Linked DNA regions of Homo sapiens: region 1 is linked to region 2. Evidence: fine-mapped expression QTL. Tissue or cell type: whole blood. Region 2 holds a variant in brackets; the other region holds the start of a gene. All regions are shown on one strand. Distances are between the middles of the regions.

The links. PIP is the estimated chance that this variant, and not a neighbour inherited with it, causes the effect.
Region 1: it holds the start of PNKD, and the variant in region 2 is fine-mapped to the expression of PNKD in whole blood (INTERVAL, PIP above 0.99). The same link has a PIP of 0.9 or more in blood mononuclear cells.

What each region holds. Positions count from the first base shown.
Region 1 is chr2:218,269,226-218,271,904 of GRCh38, reverse strand. It overlaps PNKD (PNKD metallo-beta-lactamase domain containing), which reads right to left and starts at 1,386. Exons shown (of 10, transcript NM_015488.5): 1 at 1,303-1,386; 2 at 356-524. The coding sequence starts at 1,369. AAMP (angio associated migratory cell protein) reads left to right here and starts at 1,768. Exons shown (of 11, transcript NM_001087.5): 1 at 1,768-1,939; 2 at 2,371-2,523. The coding sequence starts at 1,819. RefSeq lists enhancers at 1,092-1,141, 1,172-1,551, 1,702-2,021, 2,590-2,679.
Region 2 is chr2:218,322,765-218,325,443 of GRCh38, reverse strand. All of the region lies in intron 2 of PNKD (PNKD metallo-beta-lactamase domain containing), which reads right to left. Among named protein-coding and RNA genes, the nearest start is that of MIR6810, 18 kb to the left of the region's middle. RefSeq lists an enhancer at 1,971-2,566 and a silencer at 2,049-2,568. The variant G/A (reference allele first, on the strand shown) is at 1,329.

The sequences.
Region 1 (2,679 bases), 54 kb after region 2:
TTCATAACGCCTTCTGAGTACTACTATACAACTAGTACAAGCTCACATGATCTCAACGAACTACTTACTTAAACTTGGGTCTCACTCCAAGCTCCCAAAAGGGAGGATGAGGCCAGGGACCCAAGTCTGAATCAGATCAACTCAGCTTACTCCACAGTAAACCCACTGTCTTCTCAATTCCACATACTTTCCCACCTCCACTGCCCCACCCCTCTGAGATTCCAATCGAACCCAACAATTCTGTTCCCACAACTTTGGATTCAGCTCGCCACCTGAAACTTGGAGAAGTTTCTAAGTCCTGCCCTCCCCTACAAGCCACGCCCCGTTGGTGGGCAAAGGGGTGGTTAAAACTCACCAGGCCAGTCCCACAGCTTTCATGGGGTTCTTGCCCCTCTTTCTGGGAATGTATTCCAGCTCCGGGGATAGGGGTTCAGGTTCCTCCTTGCCCTCTGGGGAGCTGTGGCTTTGCAGGGCCCGGGTCCTGTTATGAGAAGCCTTGTTAGCTGTGGCTCCTGCGAGAATCCCTGTGGATGGAGGTAAGGAAGGTCAGTAAGAAGAGATGAGAAGAAAGCAAGCGGGGAGGTGGGGGGCAGTAAGGGCTTGGGAGGAGCGGCTGAGATCTGGGGAAGGGGAGTGACTGCAGTCTGAAGTAAGAAGTGCCAAGGAGAATCCAAAGGGAAATGGGAAAATCGCCACCGAGGTGGCACCTTTGGAAGCCACTTCCACGTCACTGCGGGCTCATCACCCTGGTGCCAGGACGAAAAGCTTCGCTGTTCTTCCTCAGACGACAGCATGGGAAGGACTGCAGTGGGACTCACATAAGACGTATGAAGGAAATCCGGGAAAAGGTTTTGAAACTGCAAATGTTAGCACTGGAAGGGACCTTAAAGATAGTCTACTCCATCCCTTGCACTGTACGGAAGAGGAAACTGAAGCCCTGAGAGAAAAACTGCTTTGCCCAAGGTCAAACTGCTAATTATCCGGGGCTGGAACTCAAACCTCCAGAAGCCCGGGGCTCTTTCCTCTGCACTGCGGTGAGTGTGAAACACCTGGAGCGCGGGAGTCCAACAGGCTTCCTAGGAGCTCCCTCTTGCAGCAAGACCCCGGAGGTGTCGAGCAACCCGAAGGCGGGGGGATGCACTGGGTGACCTCTAAAGAGCATCTCTGCACCCCCAGACTCTAAGATCTTGCAGAAAAGTGTGGGGAGGAACCAAGAGCCCTGACCTCCTGCTATCGTCGGGCTGGACGTGAAAGAAAAGGGATCTTCTGCAGTCCTGCCCTCCCCGGGGTCCCTCTCCTTACCCCGGAGGACGCGGGCATTTCTCGCCCCCCGGCCCTTCAGCGCCGTAGCAGCTACCACCGCCGCCATGTTCAGATCCCACCCCCGCTTCACCGCGCTCCCCGCCGGGAATTGTAGTTTGCGTAAGGGGCCTCCCCCGCTCCTTCCGTCCTGCCTACAGACCAGAAACTACATCTCCCAGAAGCCCGCAGAGCGGACCCAGGAGAACTACTCTTCCCAGGAGACCCCGGAGGCGCGCGCGCTCGCTTGTTTCCCTCCAGTTGGGGGCGGAGTCAGGTGGGGCGGAGTTTGGGTTCTCTCCGCCACGCCCCGGCCCCATCTTCCAATGCCGCTCTGTGATTGGTGAGGCGGCCAGCCAACCTTCGTAGCTATTGGCCGAACGGCCGTCGCTCTTCCTGCTGGGGAGTCGCCTACGCCTACTTCCTGCCGGGAGGAGGGGCTCGAGTTCCGCGTCGTCGCGCAGAGCTGACTCTGGGAGGCGTTTGGGCCCAGAGAAGTGGATCCGCCGCTTGCGCCGCATGGAGTCCGAATCGGAAAGCGGGGCTGCTGCTGACACCCCCCCACTGGAGACCCTAAGCTTCCATGGTGATGAAGAGATTATCGAGGTGGTAGAACTTGATCCCGGTCCGCCGGACCCAGGTGAGAACTGCCGCTCCTCAGGCCATGGGACAGGAGACGCTCACCCCTGGCCTCTGACTCCTGCTTTTCCCCGCTCCCCTCCACACCCGACTGGTCATTCCTACCGATATCCCTCTTCCCCTCCTCCCCCACTCCCACCCTCACACTTAGTTCTCAGGCCTGGCTGGGGTGGGGGTTCCCTGACGCCTCCTCTGGCCCTTCCCCTCACACACCCCCTTCCCATCATCCCCTTGGCCCTCCCTTACCGCACGGTCTCTGGCCAGCCGTGGCCTCCCGTCCTGTGTCCCGCGCGCCCCCGCGGACCCCGGTGTGTCTGACTCCACCTTCCCTTCTCGCCACATGACCCGCCCCAGCCTCAGGCCTCCTCATGCTTCTCTCCGTACCTCTTACCGCCTCCCGAGCCCCATCTTCTAACCCTCTCCCCAAAGCAGATGACCTGGCCCAGGAGATGGAAGATGTGGACTTTGAGGAAGAAGAGGAGGAAGAGGGCAACGAAGAGGGCTGGGTTCTAGAACCCCAGGAAGGGGTGGTCGGCAGCATGGAGGGCCCCGACGATAGCGAGGTCACCTTTGCATTGCACTCAGGTAGGTCTTTGAGGCGATCCACCTCAAATCAGTTTAGGTGGGCGTGTAAGCATTAAACATCAGCCATGGACAGAACGTTATGGGGGACACAGAGATGGGCAAGATGCTGGCCTTGCGCTGGAGGAGCCCACAGGTGGGAAAGTGTGGCAGAATGGA
Region 2 (2,679 bases):
ATGAGGTCAGGAGTTGAAGACCAGCCTGACCAACATGATGAAACCCCATCTCTACTGAAAATACAAAAATTAGCTGGGTATGGTAGCAGGTGCCTGTAGTCGCAGCTACTCAGGAGGCTGAGGCAGGAGAATTGCTTGAACCCGGGAGGCGGAGGTTGCAGTGAGCTGAGATTGTGCCACTGCACCACTCCAGCCTAGGGAACAGAGCAAGAGCCCGTCTCAAAAAAAAAAAAAAAAAAAAAAAAGGCCGGGTGCGGTGGCTCATGCCTGTAATCCCAGCACTTTGGGAGGCTGAGGTGGGCAGATCATGAGGTCAGGAGTTTGCAACCAGCCTGACCAACACGGTGAAACCCTGTTTCACCATGCTGAGATCATGCCATTGCATTCCAGCCTGGGTGACAGAGCGAGACTCCGTCTCAAAAAAAAAAAAAAAAAAAAAAAAAAAAGAAAATTATTTAGATACCTTCATGTTTGGGATTTTTTTTTCTTTTTCTTTTTTTTGTTTTTTGAGACGGAGTCTCACTCTGTCGCCCAGGCTGGAGTGCAATGGCTGCGATCTCGGCTTACTGCAACCTCCCTCTCCCGGCTTCAAGCAATTTTCCTGCCTCAGCCTCCTGAGTAGCTGGGATTACAGGCGCTTACCACCGTGCCCAGCTAATTTTTGTATTTTTAGTAGAGATGGCGTTTCACCATGTTGGCCAGGCTGGTCTCGAATTCCTGACCTCAGGAGAGCCACCTGCCTCAGCCTCCCAAAGTGCTGGGATTACAGGCGTGAGCCACCGCACCTGGCCTAAATATTTTTCAATCTCATTATTTTAATGCAACGTGCAGAGCAATGGTAACTTACTTGGCACATTATCTAAACTGCGACCAAGGTTTAGGATATTAGAGATGTGAATGCCCCAAAAGGCACAAACACAAGATCCCCACCCCACCCTCCAGCACCATGTTTTTCTAGTTATCCTGCCTTTATATCTGCATTTCTTAGACTGTGAGTGGAATCCTGCGCCTGAAGCTTCTGGGCGTGTGGGGTGGTCTGGGGAGGAGAGGGTGAATTGCACAATGTCTGCTCGGAAGCTCGGGAAATTCCCAGGCTTAGGCTCTCCCCACAACCTGGCCTGTGGCCAGGGCTCTCACAATTCCCATCCCCAACATTACTGTCCCTAAACTGGGGCTTGAGGTCCTGACCCATGGCCAGGCTGGTAGTAGGAAGGGGACAGGGGGCCTCGGAGGCCTGTCTTCTTCCCTGCCTCTCAGTGTCCCTGGGGCTGAACAGTGCTTGCTAGGCACCACCCTCCCCTGGGGCCAGGAAGGAAGGGGTAGAGGGA[G/A]GCAGGAGGGCAGAGTGAGCGGGGGAGGGTCGACGGAGACAAATCACTGGAAAAGTGGGCAGAGTCAGTTGGGTCAGATTTCACAGCCTGGGGCTTCCACACGGGCCAGGCTTTGGTTAGAAGGAAAGGGACATACTGGAATCCAACAGGGTTGGGACTCTTGCTTGGGACAGAAGAACCTAACTTGACTGGTGAGGAGTTGGATGCTGGGGAGTGGGACAAGGACATACGAAAGGAGTTGGCGGTTTTAAATGTCAGACGGTGGGAGGCATTCCTTCTCTCCGGCACTTGCCATCGGAGCCCGGGCATCTGCTGACCTCACCCCCGGACAGGGACGGTCTTCCCAGCCCTGGCTCCTGCACTATCCCCCTGTCCAGCTTCCTGGTCTCCAGCCCATTCTGTGGCACTTTGCTCCAGATGTCCTCTCACGCCCTCCTTCCGTGGCCACCCTGGCCCGCCTCTCCGATCCTCCTTCCCCAGCTTATCCCAATTGTCCAGCCCCCCAAATCCCTCAGGCCCCCCAACTCAGTGGCTTCTCCAGTCCGTCTCCTCGATCCCTCTTCCCTTAGACCAAGCCCCTTCCTAACCGCCACGCCCACCCCCAGCTCCAGCCCCCGCCTCCCAGTCCCCTCTCCCAGCGCGCCCGCCTCCCGAGCCCGCACGCTTCGGAGCCCGGGCACTAACCCGATTCGGAAGAGCAGCCGCTGGCTGTGCGCCATGAGCAGACCGCGGAGGCCCCGCCGCGCTCGGCAGCCGCGGGGGCTCACAAGTAGGACGAGGACAAGGACGAGGAGGAGCCAGCAGCCGGCGACCCACTGCCACGCCGCGGGCCAGCCCTGCCAAGCCATGCTGGGGGCAGGCACGCGCCGGCCGGGCGGGGCTCGGCGTTGCTAGGCAACGGCCCGGCCCCGGCCCCCCGCGGGGAACCTGCCTGCCGGCTCTGGACGTGGGGGCGTTGTGGCCCCGCCCCGCCCATTGACCTCTCCTTTGGACCCGCCCCCTCACCACCTCCAGCCGGGCAAGCACCCCGAAGGCCACCCGGCTTGGGGGGCGGCCTGGCTCCGCCCGGCTGGCGGCCAGGAGGCGGGGCCACAGCGGGCCGCGAGCCTGCGCTGATCGGGGTCCACAGTCGCCTGAGCCCTGGGAAGGGGCAGGAGCTCGCAGTTCGCCCCGCCCGCCTCCCCGTCCAGGGCACTGCTACACTTTCTCAACTGGCAGAAACCTGAGAGATCATCGGGGTCAGCTGCCATTCATGGATTTATTCATTCGCCGAATTACTTTTCTAGCTCCTCCTATGTACTTGGCACTCTGCCAGGCTCTGAGGAGGATGCAAGGGTCAAAGGCACACTGT